Linked DNA regions of Homo sapiens. The protein of the gene in region 1 interacts with the protein of each later gene in a biochemical or structural test. Each region holds a gene or a part of one and is shown in the gene's direction. Other genes may lie near its edges.

What was found.
Region 2: the proteins of NPDC1 (region 1) and TFDP1 form a complex in vitro, tested with the Homo sapiens proteins (one study listed by BioGRID).

What each region holds. Positions count from the first base shown.
Region 1 is NC_000009.12:137,038,945-137,043,191, reverse strand, and holds the end of NPDC1 (neural proliferation differentiation and control protein 1 precursor), read left to right. Parts: intron 1-118; coding exon 119-265; intron 266-2,004; coding exon 2,005-2,130; intron 2,131-2,207; coding exon 2,208-2,378; intron 2,379-2,454; coding exon 2,455-2,521; intron 2,522-2,593; coding exon 2,594-2,678; intron 2,679-2,755; coding exon 2,756-2,835; intron 2,836-3,124; coding exon 3,125-3,221; intron 3,222-3,327; coding exon 3,328-3,420; 3' UTR 3,421-3,729; downstream 3,730-4,247. UniProt on the Homo sapiens protein: Suppresses oncogenic transformation in neural and non-neural cells and down-regulates neural cell proliferation. Might be involved in transcriptional regulation.
Region 2 is NC_000013.11:113,587,721-113,594,752, forward strand, and holds part of TFDP1 (transcription factor Dp-1), read left to right. Parts: intron 1-7,032. UniProt on the Homo sapiens protein: Can stimulate E2F-dependent transcription.

The sequences.
Region 1 (4,247 bases):
AACCAGGCCCGGCCAGCTCGGGGGGTGACGGGGGCGGGTGGCTGGGGCAGCGCTGCCGTGTGCAGGGGCCGAGCCCTGCGGGGCCGTGAGCCGGCCCTGCCTTCTGCTTCCTTCCCAGATGTAGCCGCCTGTCCCGGGAGCCTGGACTGTGCCCTGAAGAGGCGGGCAAGGTGTCCTCCTGGTGCACATGCCTGTGGGCCCTGCCTTCAGCCCTTCCAGGAGGACCAGCAAGGGCTCTGTGTGCCCAGGATGCGCCGGCCTCCAGGTACGAGAGCAAAGGGGGAAGTCGATGGGGGGATGTCCCTGCATGAACCTCTCCCTGTAAGAAGCGGCCGGCTGGGCGCGGTGGCTCATGCCTGTAATCCCAGCACTGTGGGAGGCCCAGGCTGTTGGATCTCATGAGGTCAGGAGTTCAAGACCAGCCTGGCCAACATGGTGAAACCCCGTCTCTACTAAAAATACAAAGTAGCCGGGTGTGGTGGCACACACCTGTAGTCCCAGCTACTCAGGAGGCTGAGGCAGGAGAATTGCTTTAACCCGGGAGGCGGAGCTTGCAGTGAGCCGATTCACCACTGCACTCCAGCCTGGGCGACAGTGCGAGACTCTGTCTCAAAAAAAAAAAAAAAAAAAAAGAAGGCCGGGAGCAGTGGCTCACGCCTGTAATCCCAGCACTTTGGGAGGCCGAGGCGGGCACATCATAAGGTCAGGAGATCGAGACCATCCTGGCTAACACGGTGAAACCCCATCTGTACTAAAAATACAAAAACAAAATTAGCCGGGCGTGGCGGCGGGCGCCTGTAGTCCCAGCTACTCGGGAAGCTAAGGCAGGAGAATGGCGTGAACCCGGGAGGCAGAGCTTGCAGTGAGCCGAGATCGCGCCACTGCACTCCAGCCTGGGCGGCAGAGCGAGACTCCGCCTCAAAAAAAAAAAAGCAGCAGCCTGCAGCCTCAATGCCCAGGCCTGTGCCAGGTGGTCTTGGGGCCCCTGGACCTTGTGGGGTGTTGGGTCCAAGGCCTGGGAGATCCTCATTCACTCTCCACGAAGCCTCCCATCCTTTCCAAATGGAGGTGGGCCCAGGCCTGGGGCAGTCAGGCCCTCCCAGGAGAAGGGCTGCACGATGTGAAATGCTGGGATGGCCACGGGAGAGGAAGGGCCCATTCTCCCCGGGCCTGGGCTCTGCAGGGTCTGCCCAGAAGCCCTCCAGGCCCCCACTTCCCCGTCCCCAGGCAGCTTGCTCTTTTCCACCACTCACTGTCCTGTCCGCCTGTTGGCAAATGTTGAAGGGTGCCAGCACTGGCTGGGTGCTGGGGATGCCCCGCTCGCCAGCCTGAGCCGCATCTGTCGGGATGGCCAGTCACTGAGTGACTTCAGGTGTGGTGAGGGCTTTGCTCAGAGGTGCTGGGGGTGGGAGCAGCAGCGGCTTCCTGGAGGAGGTGTTGAGAGGAGCACCGAGAAGTGGCTGTAAGGGTCTGTGTGGATGCACCTCCTGCCAACCTGGGAGCGTCCACCCAGACTGTGCAGCCCACAGTGGGTACCGGTGGAGCCCTGCCACCAGCCCCACCCCTGACAGCTGCCCCCGTTCTCCCAATGACCTGGGGAGGGGTCCCGGGTGCTTGGCTTCCTTCGGCTTCCCCCCACTCCTTGGGGAGTCCCTGCCCCTCTACCCGAGAAGGTGCTTGGAGGTGGGGAAGCAGAAGGGGCTGTGCTGGCCAGCCCTTTATGGACATGGGTTGGGGCGAGAGACCCCACTCCTTCCTCCCCGTGCCCGGTCTTTGGACGTTTCCCTAGCGCCTCCTCCCTTGCCCTGCCTCCACTTTCCGGGAAGCACTGCCCCTCACAGGAAGCGCCCGCGCTGTCACCATGGCAATCTGGGAGGGAGAGGGCCTCCAGGCGTGTACCCAGTCCTCAGGCTCCTGGGAGGAACCTGCCAGAAGCGGGGAGGCCGGGCCTGGGGCTACCTCCTGGACGGACCCCTCCACCTGATGGCCCCTCACCCTCCCCAGGCGGGGGCCGGCCCCAGCCCAGACTGGAAGATGAGATTGACTTCCTGGCCCAGGAGCTTGCCCGGAAGGAGTCTGGACACTCAACTCCGCCCCTACCCAAGGACCGACAGCGGCTCCCGGAGCCTGGTGAGACCCCCGCTTCCCCTGCCCCACGGCCCTGTCCCTAGCCCAGTGCTCTCATTCTAACCTGTCCTCTCTCGCAGCCACCCTGGGCTTCTCGGCACGGGGGCAGGGGCTGGAGCTGGGCCTCCCCTCCACTCCAGGAACCCCCACGCCCACGCCCCACACCTCCCTGGGCTCCCCTGTGTCATCCGACCCGGTGCACATGTCGCCCCTGGAGCCCCGGGGAGGGCAAGGCGACGGCCTCGCCCTTGGTAGGTCTTGGTCGGGGGTGGGCAGGGGCAGCAGGGCGCCCTGCAGAAGGCCGCCCTCACACGCCCCCTCCTGCAGTGCTGATCCTGGCGTTCTGTGTGGCCGGTGCAGCCGCCCTCTCCGTAGCCTCCCTCTGCTGGTGCAGGTGAGCCAGTGGCCGCGGGCAGGGCAGGGAGGGTGCCACACGCTCAGAGGTCTCAGGCCCCACTCCCCACAGGCTGCAGCGTGAGATCCGCCTGACTCAGAAGGCCGACTACGCCACTGCGAAGGCCCCTGGCTCACCTGCAGCTCCCCGGATCTCGGTGTGTGGCCCCCTTCAGCCCTGAGGCTCCCGCCCAACTCTGGCCGCCAACTGACCCTCGCCTCCTCCTTCCCACAGCCTGGGGACCAGCGGCTGGCACAGAGCGCGGAGATGTACCACTACCAGCACCAACGGCAACAGATGCTGTGCCTGGAGCGGTGAGTGGCCGCCCCGGCACTGCCACCCCCACCCACCCACCCCCCATCCCCACCTCCACCTCCATTTCCACCTCCCCTGGCCAACTTTACCCCAGGCCCTGCCACCCTCACCTGCACGCTAACCTTCACCTCCCCCGCCGCCCTGCACCCTCACCTCCCCTGGCCAACTTCACCCTGGGCTGTGCTCCCCTGCCACCCCAGGGCTGAGGTGGGCTGAGTGCCCACTTCCAGACTGGGCCACTGGCACCTCGAGGGCATGGGGAGGACCCAGCGATCCCCCCCCACCCAGGCATAAAGAGCCACCCAAGGAGCTGGACACGGCCTCCTCGGATGAGGAGAATGAGGACGGAGACTTCACGGTGTACGAGTGCCCGGGCCTGGCCCCGGTGAGTGCCTCAGGGTGCAGGGAGGGGCGAACCATCTCCTGGGGTTCCCTCCCAGCAAGTATCCCCCCAGCCCACCCACTGCCCAGCCTGACACCCACATTCGCAGACCGGGGAAATGGAGGTGCGCAACCCTCTGTTCGACCACGCCGCACTGTCCGCGCCCCTGCCGGCCCCCAGCTCACCGCCTGCACTGCCATGACCTGGAGGCAGACAGACGCCCACCTGCTCCCCGACCTCGAGGCCCCCGGGGAGGGGCAGGGCCTGGAGCTTCCCACTAAAAACATGTTTTGATGCTGTGTGCTTTTGGCTGGGCCTCGGGCTCCAGGCCCTGGGACCCCTTGCCAGGGAGACCCCCGAACCTTTGTGCCAGGACACCTCCTGGTCCCCTGCACCTCTCCTGTTCGGTTTAGACCCCCAAACTGGAGGGGGCATGGAGAACCGTAGAGCGCAGGAACGGGTGGGTAATTCTAGAGACAAAAGCCAATTAAAGTCCATTTCAGACCTGCGGCTTCTGCCTGTGTTGCCAGCTTGGGTTAATCTTCCACCGCCTCATCTCCCATTTGGGGCCCTGGTAGACGGACCCCTGAGTGGGGGGCCTGGGGTCTGCTCTTGCACCCCCAGAGGGAGGAGGCCTTTCTGTTCGCTCATTAGGAGGACCTTCCCATCCCGTGGAGCTGGAGGAGAGGCCACGGGATCATCCCCACCCTCCTCAGCCAGGCCTCACCCCTGCAGACCCTTCTACGCAGGTGGGAGAGGGGAAGGGTGTAGTGTAGGGCTGGGCCAGCCCAGGGTTGGCTCTGCGGCCCGGAAGACCCCATCCTGTGTGATAAAGAGGGCTGGAGCAGGTGATAGTCCACACGCACCTGGATGTGGGTGCCCACCACCTCCAGGCAGAAGGAAAACAATGCAGACATTGAGTCTGGGTTTCTCATGGGGACCACGGCCGCCAGGCCCTGCAGCACACGGAGGAGGGATGGCAGGCAGAGGTACCTGTGTGATACCAGCTATGCAGAGCCAGGTGGACCC
Region 2 (7,032 bases), on another chromosome or scaffold:
AACAATCCACCCGCCTTACAGGCGTGAGCCACCGCGCCCGGCCTAGCTAACTCTTTTAAGTAGAGGTGTGACATTTGAGTTTTGAAAAGATGATGTTGGCAGCTTTTGCAGAAGGGAACATCGATAACCAGTTAGGTGTTTTGTTTTTGTTTTTTGAGACGGAGTTTTGCTTGTTGCCCAGGCTAGAGTGCAATGGCGCGACCTCAGCTCACTGTGACCTTGGCCTCCTGGGTTCAAGCAGTTCTTCTCCTCAGCCTCCCAAATAGCTGGGATTACAGGCGCGCCACCACACCCAGCTAATTTTTTGTTAGTAGACACGGGGTTTCACCATGTTGGCCAGGCTTGTCTTGAACTCCTGACCTCAGGGGATCCACCCACCTCGGCCTCCCAAAGTGCTGGGATTACAGGCGTGAGCCGCTGTGCCCAGCCCACCAGTTAGGTTTTTAAAAGCACTGGTACTGCAGTAAAACCACAGGTGTATGTCAAAAGCCTTTATGCTGGGGGAAAGCTGTGCCACTTGGGTTGAAGGAGGCAGGCCTCCAGCTTCTAAGTGCCCTGGGGCCTCTGTAGAGGGCCATGAGGGGCCACAGGATGCAGGGAGCTGGAGCTAGGCCCTGGTAGTCACCATGGAGGAGGAGAAACAAGGACATCCAAGACCTGAGGCTGGAAGGTTCTGGAGAGAACACAAGAGAAAAACAACTCCGGAGCTTCCAACCTCAAGTAGGGCACAGGGAGACAAGCGGGTGGGAAAAGGCCACAAATGGCTCCATGTGAGTGAGGGGCAGAAAGAAGAGGATGAGGTCAGTCCTCTGGGGGTGTCATCTTTGAACAGCAGTTGACAGGCAGTGGGTGTGAAGGTCTATATGGCAAGGAGCTACACACGAGGGAGGAGAGAGGTACTCTGAAAAGTTTGCAGAGTGGGTAGGAAATGACTGTGGAGCAGTGAGGAGAGTGATCAGTGATGGTGTAGTAGTTAGAGAGTGAGTGGTGGTGGACTTGATGGAGAGTGAGTGGTGGTGCTGGAGTGGTGGAGAGTGAGTGGTGATGGTAGATTGGACGGAGAGTGAGTGTGGTAGACTCGGGGACAGTGAGTGGTGATGGTAGATTGGATGGAGAGTGAGTGGTGGTAGGACTGGGGGAGAGAGAGTGGTGATGGTGGTGTAGGTGGAGAGTGAGTGGTGATGGTGGAGTTGGTAGAGTGAGTGTGGTGATGGTGTTGTGGGTGGAGAGTGAGTGATGGTAGTGTTGTGGGTGGACAGTGAGTGGTGATGGTGGTAGACTGGAGGAGAGTGAGTGTGGTGATGGTGTTGTGGGTGGAGAGTGAGTGGCGGTGCTGGAGTGGGTGATGTAGGGTCACAGAAGGAGGAAACAGCCTAGAAGGTGGCTGCCTTTGATGGTCCTTGAGTGGGCCCAGCTGGAGAAATGGTGAGAAGGATTAGGTTTCTGTTGTCTTGCTCAGGGACTTTTTATTTTATTGCACTTATTTGAATTAAAATGGTAAATTCAAATGGAATATTTGTGTTTATACTCTGTTAAGTGGGAGAATGTGGAGAACAGGAGTCAGCTGCCATACGGCCACCTGGCTGGCTCCGGGAACCTGAGGCCTGGTCTTGCCCAGCAGGAGCGCTGGCATAGCATGGATCACTTACAGAAATTTATGATCAAGATTATGGGCTGCTCCTGGCAATATGGGGAGGATTTCCTTGCTGTGGGGACTGTCTGTTTCCATGCCTGGCCCACCCGGTCTGTGATAGCCTCAGGTGCAGTCCTGTCTTAAGTTTGGAGACACCCTGGGAGGTCCGTACAGACTCTTTGAGTTTCTGAACTGTCCTCGAAACATCTCAGGCCCTCCGCCTCAGGGCCTAGGGAGGCTGTCCTCTGGTTCCTGAACAGGGTGGCTCTGACCCGCAGATCTGTGGGCTCCCGTTGCAGGTACCGGTGGTGCTCGGAACCGTCCTCAGATTCAGTCTTGGAAGGTGCTTTGGCACCTCCTTAGAGTCGGACAGACCCTTGTCACGAGTCAGTCCAGCTGCAGGGGCTCAAGTTGTTCTAGAGCTGGGCTGGCAGGGCCCTTGGGTGAGGGAGTGTGGCTTGGCACTGGCATCTCAGCCTGCGGCCAAGTTTCCTGCCTGCCCAGGCAGCATGACCCTTGGTGGGATCAGGCAGAGCTCTGCCTCTCCCCTCCCTACCTCGGAACATCCTGTCGTCACACACGATTGTCCAGTGTCATGAAAGTTTGTAAGTGGGAAGGCAGGCAGATGATGAATTCATCAAACATTACAGGGATGCTTTTGCTGTAAGACTTCGGGATGTAGCCCGTGTGGGGCTGTTTCTGGGGTCCCGTTCGCCTCTCCAAGCTCCTCCTGCCATTGGTAAAGATGCAGGGCATCTGAACTCGCTCTTGGGCTGTGCGGGCACTTGGACCTGGTCAGCTCCCTGTGCAGAGAACGTGGCTGTGGACGTCACTGCCCGGTATTCACGTGCCTTGGTTGTGAAAGCCGTTCTGTGGTGCCTGTTTGTGTCCTGTGAGTTTATGGGGAAATCCTGAAATTGAGAGCTGGGGACCAAGAGAACTGTGTGCGTCCCACCATGGAGGCGTTTGAGTGATGCTGTCACGAGGCTCTGCTAATGCCAAGAGGGGACCAATGAGCTCCTCTAAGGGTCTACCACCAGGTGTCCTTTTACAGACCTGGATGGTGAAGTTCAGGCCTGAAGAGGTGAACCTGATGCAGCAACAAACTGCTGTTTCCTTCAGTGCTTGAAGGAGTGAGTTCTGGGAACAGGATTCAGCGACTCAGGCCTTCTTTTGTCCTCATAAAGAAACAACTTTACATTTGAGGTTAAGAAGGTTGTCAGTTTAGCCCCCTCAGGTTTAAGTGTTGAAGAAATCTATGATGACGTGCTTGTTTTTACAAGAGTCTTTTCATATTTCAGGATTTTTTTTTTCTACATAGGATGAGGTTAGAGAAACTCTGAAGGGATATTAAAAATTAGAAAATTATAGGTTGGGCCGGGCGCAGTGGCTCACGCCTGTAATCCCAGCACTTTGGGAGGCCGAGGCAGGTGGATCACAAGGTCAGGAGATTGAGACCATCCTGGCTAAGAGGGTGAAACCCCTTCTCCACTAAAAATACAAAAAATTAGCCAGGCATGGTGGTGGGCGCCTGTAGTCCCAGCTACTGGGGAGGCTGAGTTAGGAGAATGGCGTGAACTCGGGAGGCGGAGCTTGCAGTGAGCAGAGATCACGCCACTGCACTCCAGCCTGGGCGACAGAGCGAGACTCTGTCTCAAAAAAAAAAAAAAAAAAAAAGAAAAAGAAAATTATAGGTTAATTAAAAGTTTTGCCCCTGCTGGGCACGGTGGCTCATGCCTGTAATCCCGGAGGCCAAGGCGGGTGGATCACCTGAGGTCAGGAGTTCGAGACCAGTCTGGCCAACATGGCAAAACCCTGTCTCTACTAAACATACAGAAATTAGCTGGGCGTGGTGGCGGGCGCCTGTAATCCCAGCTACTCTCGAGGCTGAGAAGGAGAATCGCTTGAACCCGGGAGGCGGAGGTTGCAGTGAGCCGAGATCACGCCATTGCACTCCAGCCTGGGTGACAAGAGCAAGACTTCATCTCAAAAAAAAAAAAAAAGAAAAAAGTTTTGCCCCTAAAACATGCTTTAAAAGAGGTATTATAGGAACATCTGGTATAAAATTCAAAGAATAAAAAAGGACATCTTTTTTCTTACATAATCAGCTCTTTGTTAGCTCTTTACTTTTGGTATTTGGAAGAAATCTCTGGAGTTCGTTGTGTAAGAATTGGAAACCTCACCTTTGGTGCACAGCTCGATTTGCAGTAGAAGTATCAGGTGCTCTTTAGGGGATGTTAAAAACTTTTCACTCTTGGTATTTACATTAAAAAATACTTTGTTGTAGAACAATTAGAAAATCCAGATTTGCAGTTGATATTTAGCTTGACTTACAGTGTGGCTTTCTGCTGTTTGTCATAAGAGACTAGATTTGTCAAGTTTTGCTTAGAGAGGAGGACTGGTAGCAGCAGGTGGCTTAGACTACGTGTGGGGATGGATCTGCGAGGGGAAGGGCAGATGTCAGCGTTGGCTGAATTAGAGGCTGAATTAGGTGACCCCTCATCCCCCAGGTGTCTTACTCAGATGATTCTGGTTGTTCGGGTACTGGCCATGCACTGCTCTCTGTATCTTTGTGTGTAGCCCAAGCCTGGAAAAGCATCCGCCCTTTGTACCTTTTTCCCGACTGGCTGAGATTCCCGCAGCATCCCGACTCCGCTTCAGGGCTCCTGTGAGGACAGGGACTATGGCTTTTAAGTTGTCGCACAGGTCATGGGCACTATTCACATGTGCTGCAGGTAATTTTGAGACTCAAGGATGAAGAGTTATATCTGCCTCTTCCCGTTAGTCTTTTATGTGAATCCTGTTTGTTTGTTTGTTTCGAGACGGAGTTTCGTTCTTGTTGCCCAGGCTGGAGTGCAATGGCACGATCTTGGCTCACCACAACCTCTGTCTCCCGGGTTCAAGCGATTCTCTGACCTCAGCCTCCCAAGTAGCTGGGATTACAGGCATGCGCCACCATACCCTGCTAATTTTTTGTATTTTTAGTAGAGACGGGGTTTCTTCATGTTGCTCAGGCTGGTCTTGAACTCCCGACCTCAGGTGATCCGCCCGCCTTGGCCTCCCAGAGTGCTGGGATTCCAGGCGTGAGCCACCGCGCCTGGCCATGAATCCTGTTTTTCTATGGTCCAGTTTCTAAGGGATTCTGGTCTGATGAATGAAAACCTTGTGTGTCCCCTGTGGCTTTGGGATACAGTATCTTTTAACACAGGTGCTTGCCCTGTGCACCCTGGTCTTCTGTTCATTAACATCGCGTCACTGGGGTCTGAGGAAAAGAGACAGTGTGATCCGCTCCAGTGAATGGGGAAGCAGGAGAGGGTCAGAAACCTGAATGGGTCAGCCCAGAATCCAGCATTGCCAACACATCCCTGGCCCTCCCCTCCTGCCCAGGTGACAGGTGTGGCATATGCTGGTCCTCAGCCCTGCCCAGGAGACAGTTGTGGTGTCTGTGGGTCTTCAGCCCTGCCCAGGTGACAGGTGTGGTGTGTGCTGGTCTTCAGCTGTGCCCAAGAGACAGTTGTGGTGTGCACGGGTCCTCAGCCCTGCCCAGGTGACAGGTGTGCTGTGTGCTGGTCCTCAGCCCTGCCCAGGTGACAGGCGTGCTGTGTGCTGGTTCTCAGCCCTGCCCAGGTGACAGGTGTGCTGTGCACGCGTCCTCAGCTATACACAGGTGTCAGGCGTGATGCGTGTGGGTCCTCAGCCCTGCCCAGGTGACAGGTGTGGTGTGCGCGGGTCCTCAGCCCTGCCCAGGTGACAGGTGTGCTGTGTGTGGGTCCTCAGCCCTGCCCAGGTGACAGGTGTGCTGTGTGTGGGTCCTCACCCTGCCCAGGTGACAGGTGTGCTGTGTGCTGATCCTCAGCCCTGTCCAGGTGACAGGTGTGCTGTGCACGCGTCCTCAGCTATACACAGGTGTCAGGCGTGATGCGTGTGGGTCCTCAGCCCTGTCCAGGTGACAGGTGTGGTGTGCGCAGGTCCTCAGCCCTGCCCAGGTGACAGGTGTGCTGTGTGTGGGTCCTCACCCTGCCCAGGTGACAGGTGTGTGTGCGGGTCCTCAGCCCTGCCCAGGTGACAGGTGTGCTGTGTGCTGATCCTCAGCCCTGTCCAGGTGACAGGTGTGGTGTGCGCGGGTCCTCAGCCGTGCCCAGGTGACAGGTGTGCTGTGTGTGGGTCCTCACCCTGCCCAGGTGACAGGTGTGGTGTGTGCGGGTCCTCAGCCGTGCCCAGGTGACAGGTGTGCTGTGTGTGGGTCCTCACCCTGCCCAGGTGACAGTTGTGCTGTGTGCAGGTCCTCACCCACCCAGGTGACAGGTGTGGTGTACACGGGTCCTCAGCTGTGCCCAGGTGACAGGTGTGGTGTACGTGGGTCCTCAGCCCTGCCCAGGTGATAGGTGTGGTGTGCGCGGGTCCTCAGCCGTGCCCAGGTGACAGGTGTGCTGTGCACGCGTCCTCAGCTATACACAGGTGTCAGGCGTGATGCGTGTGGGTCCTCAGCCCTGCCCAGGTGACAGGTGTGCTGTGTGCTGATCCTCAGCCCTGTCCAGGTGACAGGTGTGGTGTGTGCGGGTCCTCAGCCGTGCCCAGGTGACAGGTGTGCTGTGTGTGGGTCCTCACCCTGCCCAGGTGACAGTTGTGCTGTGTGTGGGTCCTCACCCTGCCCAGGTGACAGTTGTGCTGTGTGCAGGTCCTCACCCACCCAGGTGACAGGTGTGGTGTACACGGGTCCTCAGCCGTGCCCAGGTGACAGGTGTGGTGTACGTGGGTCCTCAGCCCTGCCCAGGTGATAGGTGTGGTGTGCGCGGGTCCTCAGCCGTGCCCAGGTGACAGGTGTGCTGTGTGCAGGTCCTCACCCAGCCAGGTGACAGGTGTGGTGTACACGGGTCCTCAGCCGTGCCCAGGTGACAGGTGTGGTGTACGTGGGTCCTCAGCCCTGTCCAGGTGGCAGGTGTCCTGTGTGTGGGTCCTCACCCTGCCCAGGTGACAGGTGTGCTGTGCACGCGTCCTCAGCTATACACAGGTGTCAGGCGTGATGCGTGTGGGTCCTCAGCCCTGCCCAGGTGACAGGTGTGCTGTGTGCTGATCCTCAGCCCTGCCCAGGTGACAGGTGTGCTGTGTGCTGATCCTCAGCCCTGTCCAGGTGACAGGTATGGTGTGCGCGGGTCCTCAGCCCTGCCCAGGTGACAGGTGTGCTGTGTGTGGGTCCTCTGCCCTGCCCAGGTGATAGGTGTGGTGTGCATGAGTCCTCAGCCCTGCCCAGGTGACAGGTGTCCCGTGTGCTGGTCCTCAGCTGTGCCCAGGCTTGGGCTGTGGGTGCCGCCCGTTCCCAGTGGACATGGAATCCTTGTGTTACTGAGTGACCTGCGTGTGCTGGTTGCTGCACCAGCGGGCTTTTCTGTCGCAGTTGC